Homo sapiens: one gene and its partner. The protein of the gene in region 1 binds, or shares a complex with, the protein of each later gene. Each region holds a gene or a part of one and is shown on either strand. Other genes may lie near its edges.

What was found.
Region 2: STRIP2 (region 1) and STK25 share a complex: the UniProt entries of both Homo sapiens proteins name them as parts of the core of STRIPAK complex.

What each region holds. Positions count from the first base shown.
Region 1 is NC_000007.14:129,479,215-129,486,741, reverse strand, and holds part of STRIP2 (striatin-interacting protein 2), read right to left. Parts: intron 6,242-7,527; coding exon of another isoform or gene 6,161-6,241; exon of another isoform or gene 5,958-6,160; coding exon 5,853-5,957; intron 3,901-5,852; coding exon 3,696-3,900; coding exon of another isoform or gene 3,673-3,695; exon of another isoform or gene 3,111-3,672; intron 1,164-3,110; coding exon 913-1,163; 3' UTR 1-912. UniProt on the Homo sapiens protein: Plays a role in the regulation of cell morphology and cytoskeletal organization. Required in the control of cell shape. Calmodulin-binding scaffolding protein which is the center of the striatin-interacting phosphatase and kinase (STRIPAK) complexes.
Region 2 is NC_000002.12:241,498,516-241,506,042, forward strand, and holds part of STK25 (serine/threonine-protein kinase 25), read right to left. Parts: intron 3,194-7,527; coding exon 2,963-3,193; intron 2,282-2,962; coding exon 2,225-2,281; intron 1,767-2,224; coding exon 1,658-1,766; intron 900-1,657; coding exon 742-899; intron 660-741; coding exon 474-659; intron 270-473; coding exon 124-269; intron 1-123. UniProt on the Homo sapiens protein: Oxidant stress-activated serine/threonine kinase that may play a role in the response to environmental stress.

The sequences.
Region 1 (7,527 bases):
TTACTTTTCAATTAGAAAAATATATTGATCACGACCACAAGTGGACATACCATCTGAATAAATAAAGCCTCCTGTAGTTAACTTGTCATTTAAAAAATGAATTAGATGAAAAGGATAATTTTCTGCAGTATGCTCAGCCATTTGAAGACTGGAGTCATTTAAGAAAAACATGAAACATCCTTAGAGAGGACCTAATTATTTCATATTGGTTGTGGCTCTTTAAAAATGGCAGAGCATTCCATGCCCTATACAGAGTACACAAGGAAATAATTTTCACATTGAATATAGATCTCTTACAGAATGAGGAAAAAAACACTTTACACAACACACTTTTCGATAACATGCAGTATTGAGGGAATAGTAAATCATCATCCTTCACAAAGAAGGTGCAGGTGCTCTAAAATAATCTTAGAGCTAATGATTTCAGAAAGAGGCTTCCAAATTTGAAATTTAAAATGCAAACTTAATTTCAAAGTTGGTTTTTCCAAATCTCTGATAAGTCCTAGGAATCCAGTGTGAGCAAGAAGAAAACTTTCTCCCTATTTTATGACTTGTACCTCCCACTATCTGTGATGAATGCCATGGGTCAAATGCCATAACAAATTTCCTCTTTTAGAGCCAGCAAAGTCTAGCCTGGTTGTAGCCAAGACTAAAGCAGGAAAAGGTCCTACCAAAGAGCTTGTCTAGAATTGATCCACCAAAAGATTTCCAAGGCCAACTGGGCACCCAACTGACCCCAGGGCAAGTTGATCATTTTATTGTGATTCAGGATCCCACCCTTGCACCATCTTTAGGCCCAAGAGCCCCCAGAAGAGCCCTGAACTGGTAACAGCGCCTGTATGGACAGGGTAGGCAGAGCACAGTTTATTGGAGCTGACCTCTATCTATTGATGCTTGTTGACAAGAACTTAGTCAGTGATTCTGGAGCAGCTCCTCCCAACAGATGGGCTGTGAAAACACCTCTCTCTCGAGCCAGAGCTCATATGAATAGTGGAAATCTTCAGGCAGATCCAACCTCTGCCCCAGTACGCTCTGCAAGCAGTTATCCACAGGTGAAAACTCAGAGTCCTGGGGTCTGTCATAGCGACGGCTGTTAAAAGCCTCAATGTTGGCCCTCAAGGTACATTCTTCTGCTTGGAAGTCCCATGGTCTGGCATCGATGTCTGTGTTGGAAAGAGAGGAAGAAGAAGACATACAATGCAAGACACTGCTCCTCTTATCACAGAGCATGGTCTATGGGATTCCAAAAATGGAACTGCTCAGAAATTCTTTTTTTTTTTTTTTTTGTAAAGAGCAATGTATGAAGTTAGTATACAGCATGCTGACACTTAGGTTTAAAAAATACACATATGCCCACATGCATAAGCTTGTATATGCAGAAATTATCTTTGGAAGGGTAGTCTAGAAACTGGTAATAGTGGTTACCTATGAGAAAGGAAATGAGGGCCCAGAGGGAGGTGGACTTCTTCTATTGTATTTCCTTTTTATTATTTCACTTTCTTATTAGCTTTATGTATTACTAGTTATATGTATTATGTTTCCCAAAAGGGTAATTAAATTCCTTTTATGCAGCTTTCCTTAGGGGATGAGTGTCCCATCTGAATGGAATAGCCAGCTTTCAAGGAATAGGAAGGGGCAAGAGGGGTATAACATGGAGAATCAGAATGGACCAATTACCGAAGATTTTCCTGATTCCCTGGAATCTCCTCCAGCACATGATAAATCTATATGTCAGCTTATTTTAAGATGATGAGGTGACGGCTTCAATGAAGGTAAAAACAGAAAACAGATAATCTGTTTCGCTTCTATTCACTTAGACACTTATTTCAGGGCTGAAGATACAAATCTCCCAGATCTCTCATGTTCTACATGCAAGGGTTTATCATAAGGAAGTGTAGTGTGAGTTTGGGCTCATAATGGCAGCAACAACAGATGTGCCATTTGCAGGATAAAACATTTTTGTGTTTTAAAAATTTACAAGAATTTAATAGATAATTGTGCTTTATGTCTTATAGCAGAAGTTGCATCCTGGCTTGTTATGTGCCTATCATATGTTTCCTTTAGTTCTCTAAACCCTTTTTTAGTGAAAAGACAGTCCCTCAGCACCACAAATTATGCAGTTGAGTTTCCCACATTTAGGGGAATAGCAGGGGTCAGCATATCTGGAGTAAAATGGATAAGACTTGTCCTGGGAAAACCATCTTCATGATCATGGTATTTTCCCTGCCAGGTAAGTAAGTAGAGTTATCTGAACTCTTTACTGCATCATCCTTTAAAATTCAAGCAGGTTACAAACACAGCAAAGACAAGTCATTACCAAAAATTCTCAAATACAATTATGGAAATAATGGTCAAATACAAAACAATAAAAAAGCTCTCCAAAATAAATTTTTCCAAACTCTGATCAATCTTACAAGTTCTGGTAGTTTAACCAAATATCTTGCCTTCTGATGTGAGGCAATGTACAGTTCCCAAGATTACCTAGGACATACTGCAGCCAAAAAGGTTTAAATTGAATTCATCAAACCTTTAGATTTAACTTCAAGTTTACAGGTAATACCATAGATAGACGAATAAAGTAGATAACACCACAAAGAAGAAAACAGACAAATCCAGAATGTGAGTATTTTGCAGGACAACTGGCCTAGTTCTTCAATTAGTTAGCATTAATGGTGGAGGTGGGGAGACTGCTTAGAGGCCAAGCACGGTGGCTTACACCTGTAATCCCAGCACTTTGGGAGGCCAGGGCAGGAGGATCCCTTGAGCCCAGGAGTTCAAGACCAGCCTGGGCAACACAGGGAGAGACTCCATCTCTACAAAAAAATTTGAAAAATTAGCCGGGTGTAGTGGTGGTATGCATCTGTAGTCCCAGCTACTTGGCAGCTGGGAGGATCACTTGAGCCCAGGAAGTCGAGGCTGCAGTGAGCCATTATCATGTCACTGCTTTCCAGCCTGGGTGACAGAGCGACCCTCTCAAAAAAACAAACAAACAAAAAACAGAAAACAAAAATAATTAACATATATATAACAACTGGATGCAACCTGTGGTCCTGGATTGGATTCTGACTTGGAAAAATAGCTATGAAGAACATTTTGGGACAACTCGAAAATTGTGAATATGAACTTTATTAGATGAAATGAAAATGTACTGACATGAAAAGGTAGAGATAATGTTAAAAGAGAAAATTACAAAATAGCATACATAACTTGCTTTCATTTTGATAAAATATGCATGTATATGCATAGAAAAAGATCTGGAGGAATATACAATAAGATGTTAATGGTGGCAATTTCTGCATAGTACAAATATGGCATAAATATAATATAGTAAAATGTTTGTTTACTTGTATTTTCTATCTTTTTTTCTAACTGCTTTGTAATAATAAAAAGTTGTTTTAATTTAAATCTTTTGGAGAAAGCTGTCATTTAAAAGAATGTTTTGGAAAGGCAATTAATTATCTCTCAATTTACTTGTTTTATAAAACGGATTTTCATAGTTTACATAGGACAAGGGTACATACTAGAATTTGAGGCATAACCTTAAAGTTTGGTGTATCAGCGCCTGACCTATAATCACATATTTTTTCATCTAAAATATGTAACAATTCATGCCAAAAGAGGAGTGATAAATATTTATTTAGTTTTGTCTAAACCCCAGGAAACTCCAGGAAGTCAAGAGCTTTGGGAAGACTCACCATTCCCGTAAGCCCAGTCATCGTTCATGCGGTGACGCACTTTCTGGTAAATGGCTGACATGGTTTTCATGTTGCTTTTCCTCCATTGGCGCCCCAGGTACTTGGTCTGTAACTTTAGTAGCTTTAGGACATAAAGTTGCAGCATGGCCTGTTTGACCTTGAGGGCCCGCTTTAAGATTGGTGCCGATTTAAACACTACCAGCATCTGTTCATTGAAAGAGGGGTGGGGTAAAGATCTAACGTTTCTTGGAATTTCCAGTTTACAGACAAATTAAACCAAACCTAGCTAGCCTCAGAAATTCCTGGGGAGCTTTCAGGAATCTATGGTCCAGGCTCTACTTAGATTTAATCTTCAAGAATATAGAGGGGGGCTGGGCAAGGTGGCTCATGTCTGTAATCCCAGCACTTTGGGAGGCCGAAGCCAGTGGATCACGTAAGGTCAGGAGTTTGAGACCACCCTGGCCAACATGATGAAACCCCATCTCTACTAAAAATACAAAAATTAGCCAGGCGTGGTGGCATGGGCCTGTAATCCCAGCTACTAAGGAGGCTGAGGCACATGAATTGCTTGAACCCAGGAGGCGGAGGTTGCAGTGAGCTGAGATCATGCCACTGCACTACAGCCTGAGTGACAGAGCAAGACTCCGTCTCAAAAAAAAAAAAAAAAAATATATATATATATATATATATAGAGAGAGAGAGAGAGAGAGAGAACTATTCCATTCATATTTTATTGTTCAAAGTTTTCAATATTCAAAGCATATGGTATAAAGTGAAAAGAAAATTTTGTCAGCCACACATATCATTTCCACTGTCACAGTATTTTTGTTTATTTTCTGGAGATAATTCTATGTATGCATATATTACTTTTATTTTTTTGTTTTGTTTTGTTTTTAAGATGGAGTCTTACTCTGTCGCCCAGGCTGGAGTGCAGTGGTGCAGTCTCGATTCACTGCAACCTCAACCTCCTGGGTTCAAGTGATTCTCCTGCCTCAGCCTCCCCTGAGTAGAGGCGCCCGCCACCACACCCAGCTAATTTTTAGTAGAGATGGGGTTTCATCATGTTGGTCAGGCTGGTCTCAAACTCCTGACCTCAAGTGATCCTCCCACCTTGGCCTTCCGAAGTGCTGGAATTACAGGTGTGGGCCACCACACCCAGCCTACTTTTGTTTTTTAACACAAATGGTAGCCAACTACATATCCTGCCACACTGTTCTATACCTGGTTTTTTTTATTGAATATATCTTGAAAACCATTCCATATCAGTACAGAACTGCCTCATTCTTTTACTTTTTTTAATAGAGATGGGGTCTTATCATGTTGCCCAGGCTGGTCTCAAACTCCTGGGCTCAGGCAATCCTTCTGCCTCAGCCTCCCAAAGTGCTGGGATTACAGGCATGCACCACTGAGCCCGGCTGCTCATTCTTTTTAATGATTGCATAATATTCTATTATAAGGACATACCATCATTTATTTAACCAGTTGGTCCTGCTTAATGAGCATTTAGCTTGTTTCCAGGCTTTCATTATTATTATTATTATTATTATTTTGAGACGGAGTCTCACTCCGTTGCCCACGCTGGAGTGCAGTGGCATGATCTCGGCTCACTGAAACCTCTGCCTCCCAGGTTCAAATGATTCTCCTGCCTCAGCCTCCCGAGTAGCTGGGACTATAGGTGCCTGCCACCTTTCCCAGCTAATTTTTGTATTTTTAGTAGAGATGGAGTTTCACCATGTTGGTCAGGCTGGTCTCGAACTCCTGACCTTGTTATCTGCCCGCCTCGGCTTCCCAAAGTGCTGGGATTACAGGCATGAGCTACGGAGCCCAGACAAGCTTTCATTATTATAAACAATGTTGCAATGATAAACCTTGCACTTGCATCATTTGGGAATGTATGTAATCCAAACAACATTGCTAGCTTCCCTGCTAGAGTTGCCCTGAGGGAGGGTTTGAGATTCAGCCCCCTGAAAAGAAATGGACTGATAAGTAATCATCTAATATAGAATAAGTGCCCAGAATTATGAGGTGCTAAATCTTATGTAGCATTCAGTGTCTATATACGGAGATCACAAACCAGGTAGCACACAAATATTTACTAGTGATCTTTTAAAAATTCAGTCAGATGGACAACTCCATGATGTAAAAAACCACACTCACCATGGTCCGGGAATGTTTCCATTTGGTCAGTTTATTGAGCAGCCTCAGGAGGTTGATGCAGGAAAAGAGGTTCCTCCAGCAGAACTGGCTGTTGTCTCCAGCTTCCTATAGTAGGGAACATCCATCATTATCTTAATACCTACAAGGCTTTAATTCCCACAGAAGCCTGGAAGTCAATGTTGGTCAGTTTAGGTGAGGCCTTCCTGTATGAAATAATACCTCCTCACCTTCCTGTTTCTTAACACACTGAAGTCTCCAAAGCCCATGGTTTAAAAACCCCCTCAGCTGCCAATCCTGGAAGACTCTACCTACAGCATGTGTTGGTTAGAAAGATGATACATGAGCACAGGAACCTGATTCAGGCAAGTTTTCTTGTGTAGCTTATTGCTCTAGGATCAGAAAAGAGATGAGAGAATTTTACCCCCATATACAGGTACTTTGCGCTTATATAAACTATGTTTGTAATTGTTAGGATTAGGTCTAATTCTGGTAGATTTTAAACTATGTTGGATGGATCTGATATCAACTATGGTTGAATTTTTTTTTATCTTATCAACCTTCACCCTCCTTTATCAAACCATATTACAGTTAGATGCTTAATTCTTCAGCATGGAAGGAAAAATGGCAGATGGTTTCTTCTAATCAGATATTTTTCTTATATATTTCTTGATAGTTTGTGAACACCTAACCAGAGACAACAGATGGATGTCAGATTAAAAGCAGGTATCTACTCATAGAAAGATTTTTCAGAAATAAAAATGTGAGTCCTTATGTGAATTTGGGGCTTGCAAATACATACTGGTGTCAGAAGCTATATAACTCAATGAGCACACGTGACAGCCAAACTAACATCTTGGAAATTCCTCACATCTACAATGTGATAGGAGAATGTAGGAGTAGATGACATGTAGAAGTGAGCTGCTGTCTGGTGAATGGAAAATTACCTCCTCCTCCCTCAAATTAATTTGAAGCAAGACAGGCATATATCTAATGTGGAATGAACATCCAAAGTTTTTGAGGGTATTAGGCTTTCCTAATACCTAATACCAAGAGCCAAAAAGTTTCAGGGAAATTTCTTATTTAGAAATATTATTTATAGGTCGGTTGTGGTAGCTCACACTGGTAATCCTAGCACTTTGGGAGGCCGAGGCAGGCAGATGACCTGAGTTCAGGAGTTCGAGACCAGCTTGGCCAACATGGTGAAACTCCATTTCTACTAAAAAAATTAAAAAATTAGCTGGGCATGGTGGCAGGAGCCTGTAATCCCAGCTACTTGGGAGGCTGAGGCAGGAGAATCACTTGAACCCAGGAGGCAGAGGTTGCAGTGAGCCAAGACCACGCCATTGAACTCTAGCCTGGGCAACAAGAGAGAAACTCCATCTCAAAAAAAAAAAAAAAGAAACATTATTTATAAATAATATTCTCCATCATACAGTAAATGTTCAATATTGTCCCAGGAGAACCATCTGTCTGCTTCTAAGGAAAACTTCTATGGGACTTTCTACTGTAGTGCATCAGGTAGTCTGGCTTGCCCCAAATAGACCAAGTTCTACAGACGTTATATCTTGTGTGGTTAATAGAGACAGGGAGACTTTTACATTTTTTTTTTTTTTTTGAGACAGAGTTTTGCTTTTGTTGCCCAGACTTGAGTGCAGTGGGGTGATCTTGGCTCACT
Region 2 (7,527 bases), on another chromosome or scaffold:
GGGTCCCTGCCCAACACTATATCTGGTCACCCTCACCCCCAGGGCCCACGCCCCTGCTTCTGGAGTGGGGACCACCCACGTCACAGCACCTAGGGTCACCATGAGGATAAACCAGGTCCCTACATGTCAGAGTCCTCAGAGCTGGACTCCTCGCCATGCCCCTCTGACTTCCAGCGCTTATAGCGGTCGATGAGCTCCGTGAGGAAGGAGGTCTTCTTGGTGTAGCGTGTGATGAACTTGTGCTTCAGGAGCTCCTTGGCCGTGGGCCGCTGCAGGGGGTCAGGGGAACACTAGTCACTGGGCCCAGCCAAGCTCTGCCTAAGGGAAGCAAACGTGAGGCAGCCTGGACCGGGGCGGGCCCTCACAGCTACAAGGCTGGTGGGCCTGGGCCTCCGGGCTGTGCCGCCCACCCCAAGCGAACGCCCTCCCTCCACGTCCTGTCTAGAAGGGACCGGGCCAGAGGCGGGCCTTACGAATCGGGGGTCTTTGTTGAGGCAGGCCTCCACGAACTCCTTGAAGGGCTTGCTGTGCTGGCCCTCCAGTGTGGGTGGGCTGTTCTTGGGAATCAGGAACAGGACGCGCATGGGGTGGAGGTCAGAGTTTGGAGGCTCCCCCTTGGCCAGCTCGATGGCTGTGATCCCCAGGGACCAGATGTCAGCCTGGACAGAACACAAGGACTGTTGCTGCCCTGAGCACCCGAGCCAGGCATGGTGCCCGCACCTGCCCGCCCGCTGCACCCACCTTGAAGTCGTAGGCCGACTGCTTGATGACCTCAGGTGCCATCCAGAAGGGGGTGCCCACGAATGTGTTCCTCTTAATCTGCGTGTCTGTGAGCTGCCCTGCTACCCCAAAGTCCGCCAGCTTCACGTCACCCTGCTCCGAGAGTAGCACGTTGGCAGCTGCTTGACACAGGACAGGCAGGCGTCATCCCAGGCTCCACGTGGCTCCACCCCGGGCCCCCTGAGAAGGGCCAGGGTACCATCCACCTGGCCTCCTAGGGCACAGCAGGGCTGTCCTCAGGACCTCAGCCCTCCTTGCCACTCTCAAACCCAGGGCCACCTAGGGCCACAGGGGCACTGCCAGCAGGAGCCCAACGGCTCCACTCCGAGCTCCAGGGCTCTTCCTGCATTTGGCTTTTACGACAAATCCCAACGACAAGCGACTTCGCCCACTGGGGGCTACCGCAGAGGTGACCCTGACCAAGGGTGTAGCCAACACGGGCCTGCCAGGAAGCCCCCTGCTCCACCAGAATCGTCCCCTACATGACAGAGATGGCTCGTTGCCAGTGGCAAGTCCCTCCCCATGGGCTGGCCCAGCCTCCCGTCTGCTCTCAGCAGGGCCAGACCACACGCTGGGGCTACTCAATTCTACACCTGCTGCTGTGCCGTGCACCACAGGGAACCAACAACTCCAGCCAAGTGTGGCCCTTTCCTACACTCAGTCCACAGCTGGTTTCCTCAGCGTACAAGGAAACCGTTACAAGTAGTATCTTCTGGAAAGGGAGCGAGACAGGACTGCTCAGTTTCAGGGTGGCCACAAGGTTCTCTATACTCCAGACCCTGGGCACCACTAGCCACTTGCCCCTCACAGGCCCCGGCCTCTCTAAGGTCAGTGGGGCTCAGGACGTTACAAGAGCCACATCCACCCCCAGCAGGACCTTTGATGTCTCGGTGGATCTTGCGTTCGGAGTGCAGATAATCCAGGCCCTTCAGAATCTCCCGCAGGATCGTGGCAATGTATGTCTCCTCCAGGGGACCTGGTTTAAGCTGGAGAGGAAGGTGCGACAGCAGGGCCTCAGCTCCTGTCCCAGGCCCAATGCCTGAGTTCTCTGCCTCTCTCACAGGGAAGGGCTGTCCCTGCAGATAGCTGGGGGCTTCGTGTTCCTTTACTTCCCAAACAGAACTAAGTTTCAGATGGGAGTGGGGTGGTGGAGGCTCTTTCTAAAGCATATAAACCAGCCTCACCTTACTGTCATGTAACAGAAAAATAGGCTCCCAGCCATCTCCCAGCAGGCCTGCCCCCGCCCACTCCCACAGGCCAGGACCCCTTTCAGCACCAACTGGGCAGACGTGCAGATGGCAGTTCATTTTTGCTTTAGACGATTCCTAATTAACACCTAACGTGCCATGACACCAAACGAGAGGTGGCCCCTGGAGCCCATGAGTCTGAGGGGCAGGGGACTCGGACACTGCATGACCCCCCACTGCCATGGCCTATGCCTCACCAAGTCCAGTGCTGAGCCGCCGCCCAGGTACTCCATGATGATCCATAGCTTGGTGCTCTGGGACCGGAGACAAACCCATCAGCATTTGGCAGCAAGAGGAAGGGCATGCTCCAGGGTGGGAGTCACAGGCCGGAGTCAGCCAGGGCCCAGGCCCCACCGGTCCCATCCCTGCCAAGAACCCTGAACAGGAAAGGGCTCTCTCGGCCTTGCCCATCTTCCCCTCCTGCCACACTACTGCTACAGATGCTCAGAGGACAGGTTGAGTACACACAGCAGTGGCTGACTCCACTTCACCAAGACCCCATCAAAAACCAGGCTGCTGATCCAGTCCTACAGGGCTGGGAAGAGGGCATGGCTGGCAAGCATGTGACCCGACACACCCATCACCCTCCTGGGCAGGATGGCCACAGCGTTCCCTACACCCCAGACACTGGCACCACCAGCCACCTGCTCCTCACAGGCCCACTCACCACTGCCAGTAGGGGCCCCCCAGAGTGCTCCTAGCAGCGCCCTCACTGCATTACCACAGGCAGGCAAGTGGGTCCCAATGGCCATTTAGAGCCAACTGACCCTCGTGGACGAGGGCTCACACCCTGCCTGCCCAGGGCAGTTTCCCGGAGGGCATGCACTGAACCGTCAAGACCGCCTTGCACCCTCTGGCATGTCACTCAGTCCCTCTGACATGGAAGAGAGCCGGGCACAGCACCAGCAGGGTCCCCGCCTCCCCACAACAGGCACCTTTAGGTAGGAGCCAAAGTAGCGGGTGATGTAGGGGCTGTCGCACTGACTGAGGACAGTGATCTCCTGCTGGATGTCCTCGATCTCATCCTCGGCCTCCTCCAGGTCGATGATCTTGATGGCCACCACCTCCTTTGTGTGGTTATCGATGCCCTTGTAGACCTCCCCAAACGAGCCCTTGCCAATGCGGTCGAGCTTGGTGAAGAGCTCCTCAGGGTCCACTCGAGAGTGCTGTGGGGCCAGGGCGGGGACAGAGGGCAGACAGCGCCGGTCACAAGAGGCGGGGGACAGGCAGAGGCTGCCCTGCTGGGGAGGAAGGGACCTGTAGGGAAGGGGGAGTCCAAGGGAGCGCACCTCAATTCTTCTCTGGTTTCTTCCTTTCTCCCTTTTTGTTCAAAAACTAAACTTGGCCGGGCGTGGTGGCTCACGCCTGTAATTCTAGCACTTTGGGAGGCCGAGGCAGGTGGATCACTTGAGGTCAGGAGTTCGAGACCAGCCTGGCCAGCATGGTGAAACCCCATCTCTAATACAAAAAAATTATCTGGGCGTGGCGGCTCATGCCTGTAATCCCAGCTACTCAGGAGGCTGAGGCAGGAGAATTGCTTGAACCCGGGAGGCGGAGGTTGCAGTGAGCCAAGACCGCACCATTGCACTCCAACCTGGGCAACAAGAATCAAACTCCATTAAAAAAACAAACAAACAAACAAATAACAACAACAAAAAAACCTAAACTGAACTTTCCATGCAAGGGAAAAAGTCCCCAGAAAGTATAAAGAGGCCAGGCCAACTCGATGAACCCTGCTGGAAACAGGAGCTTTAGGTGATGACACGGCATGAAGGTTGCCTCATCTAACCCGAACAACATGCCAGCCCCGTGACAGATGTTAATAGGTGAATGGCCCCTGGGGGTGAGGGGGGATTTGGGAGCTCTTACTTAATTTGTTATAAATCTGAAATTACTAAAAAATAAACTCATCAGGCCAGGCTTGGTGGTGCACACCTGAAATCCCAGCACTCTGGGAGGCCAAGGCGGGTTGATCACCTGAAGTCAGGAGTTCGCAACCAGCCTGACTAACATGGTAAAACCCCATCTCTACTGAATACAAAAAAAATTAGCCGGGCGAGGTTGCGTATGCCTGTGATCCGAGCTACTTGAGAGTCCAAGACAGAAGAATCACTTGAATCAGGGAAGCGGAGGTTGCGGTGAGCCGAGATCGCACCATCGCACTCCAGCCTGGGCAACAAGAGCGAAACTAGGTCTCAAAAAAATAAAAAATTTAAAAAAAAAAACCTCATCAAAAACAAAAAACCTCAGTATGTGTTAACCAAGTTCTCCTCCACTCCTGAAAGTCACGTATTTAGAAAGGGCTTCCCTCACCCCTCCATAAGTCCTCCTGACAGCTACACCAGCGCGGAGTTAGAAACTTGATGCTTTCTTGATGCAGAAAGCTGCCTCACACAGTCCTCAGATTTAAAGAAGCAATGCCTAAAAGTTTCTGAGCCAGTGGTGTGGAAGGTGCCTGGGGTCTGTGGCCCAGGCCCAGAGTCCAGGGGAAGCCAGCAGAGGTGTGTCCTCAAGCCTCGACCCTTTTTTAAATGTTTTTGAGATGGCTTCTCACTCTGTCACCCAGGCTGGAGTGTAGTGGTGCAATCTTGGCTCACTGCAACCTCTGCCTCCTGGGTTCAAGCGATTCTTCTGCCTCAGCCTCCCAAGTAGCTGGAATTACAGGCATGCACCACCACTCCCAGTTAATTTTTTGTATTTTTAGTAGAGATAAGGTTTCACCATGTTGGCCAGGCTGGTCTCGAACTCCTGACTTCAGGTGATCTGCCCATCTCAGCCTCCCAAAGTGCTGGGATTACAGGCGTGAGCCACCACGCACGGCCCCTCCCCTAACAACATCAAGGGTCTTGATGCCAATTTAGTGTGGCAGAGCATAAAAAGGCAAAACAGCCTGGGCGCGGTGGTTCACGCCTGTAATCCCAACACTTTGGGAGGCCGAGGCGGGCAGATCACGAGGTCAGGAGATCAAGACCACCCTGGCTAACATGGTGAAACCCCGTCTCTACTAAAAAATACAAAAAATTAGCCGGGTGTGGTGGTGGGCGCCTGCAGTCCCAGCTACTCGGGAGGCTGAGGCAGGATAATATCATGAACCCAGGAGGCGGAGATCGTGCCACTGCACTCCAGCCTGGGCGACAGAGCAAGACTCCGTCTCAAAAAAAAAAAAAAAAAAAAAGGCAAAACGACTAATTATGCCACAAAAAAAAACACTGAAGACAGGACAGGTCCTTGGGTGGGGGTGCCCTGCACGTTCCTGGGCCTGCGGAGACCGTGCCCACCAAGAAGGATGGGGTACACCACACACAGCCCTCACACTCACCCCCTGGACACCTGTGTGCTGGGTCCACCCCAGGCCTAAGCCCAGCGGAGGAGCTGGCTGAAGCCAACTGGACATCGCACCAGCCTGAGGCGACACTTCCGTGTGAAACTGCCAATTAGCTGACCTCCCAGGGTTCCTAACCAGGAGGGTGGAAGGGGCGGCACACAGGCCCCCACCTTGAAACATGCCGCTGCACATCCCTTTTTGAGTGCCAGACCTCGAGGTGACTGGAACTCTGGGGAAGGAAAGGCAGTTAGGGGAGGGCCAGAGGCCACCTAACCTTTCCCTGCAAGGCTGGCTTGTCAAGGCCCGGGGGTGTGCAGGTGGCCTCCATGCAGCAGCTAGAGCAGGCCAGCTGCAGTGTACACACAGACCCTTGCTTAGCCCAAAGGTCTGGCCAGTTGAGACAGCTGGTCGAGTCAAAAGTGACCTTTCTCATTCTCTCATCAGTACAGCAGCCCAGTCCTAAAGCCAGTACCCATGGAGGAAACAGCAGGGGGTGCCTTGAGCCCACCTGCTACCAGGAGTCCCCAAAGCCAAGGTCAAGAAACTCGGCAGGATAGAGAGAGCTGAGTACTGCCTGGGGTCATTCCGGTCAAGGTGAGCTGTGTCTGCCCCCAGCCCCATCACTGCTGCTGACCATGTGTTCTAAAGAGAAGCCAGGAAAAATTCAAAGCTGACAAGTCACAGGTGCTCAGCTGTCTCCGGGTTGAGGGTGGGTGGCACAGATGAGGTGAGAACCAGCCCCTATCTGAAAGGAAAGTCAACCCAGAACATGCAATCTTTTTTTGAGATGGGGGGTCTCGCTGTGTGCCCAGGCTGGTCTCCTCAGCCTCCTGAGTAGCTGGGCCCACAAGTGCATGTCAAAGCATAAGCTCATCAGCCCACTGGCTGTCATAGGTAAGCAGTCAGTGTTAAAATATCACCCTCCTGCCATAGAGAGCATCATCTCCGTTTCCTCCTCCCTGTTTGCTCCATTTCTGGTGGAGGACCACCCGTTCCTAGCCCAGTCCTGGATGCCAGGTGCAGGACAAGGTTAAGAAGCAGCCCCTCTTCTTTTTCTTTTTTTTTTTGAGATAGAGTCTCACTCTGTTGCCCAGGCTGGAGTGCAGTGGCGTGATCTCGGCTCACTGCAACCTCCGCCTCCCAGGTTCAAGCGATTCTTCCACCTCAGCCTCCCGAGTAGCCGGACTTACAGGCACCCGCCATCATGCCCCGTTAATTTTTTTTTTTTTTGAATTTTTGTAGAGACAGGGTTTCACCATGTTGGCCAGGCTAGTCTCGAACTCCTGACCTCAGGTGATCTGCAGAAGCAGCCCCTCTTCTGCCTGCTCCTCCTCCAGCAGGCCCAACGCCACCTTGTCAAATCCTCCCTGTTTGCTCAGCCCATCAACGCTTACTCGGGGCCCTGGGACGCTGCTCCACCGAGCCGTTAGCCTGTAGGCCTGGCCTCAGCCTCAACCCAACCCTGCCCAAGCACCCGGAAAGACCCCAAGGGAGTCCTCCTGGGGATTCCAGAGGTCTGTTGGTGCCCTGAGCTTGTGTCCTCCCATCTACTCCTGTCTAAGGTGGCCTGAGAGAGGGCCTGGAGAAAGCAGGGCCATGACCTGGCAGCATTACCCAGCACCACCACCCCTCCGACTCTTCAGGCCTCTCTGGATGACGCGTCCTCCCGCCCTGCTCTACTCCCTGCTCCCTGCTGAGGCCATGCTGCTCTCCACACAGGGCCTGGAGCTGAATCTGCTCCATCACAGCAGCCCCGGTAGGGAAACCCCTGGGTGGGCACTCAGACCTCTACTGCTTCACAGCAGGGGAGCACAGCGGACCCCTAAGCCAGAGCCAGGGCTCATCAGCCCAAGCAGAAACTGTGTGACAGGAACCCTCTTGGCTGTGATCCTGGCCCTACAATGACATCGCAGGCCAAGCCAAGGCAAGCCATCCCCACCCCCACCTGGAGAAGAAAGGGTAAGTGGGCCCCTGGCCTGGAGGCTGCGAATCCTCTTTTGGATGTAGCAGCAGCTGTGGCCTGGATGATCACTCGGGCCACTCAGCTGACTCGAGCGGTGGACACCTGTTCTCCACATTAGCCCTGGGGCTGCCAGGTCTGGGGCCTCCACTTGCCAATGTGTCTGCTGTCAGTGTTGCCCCACAAAACAAGGGGAATGACCCAGCACACATAGC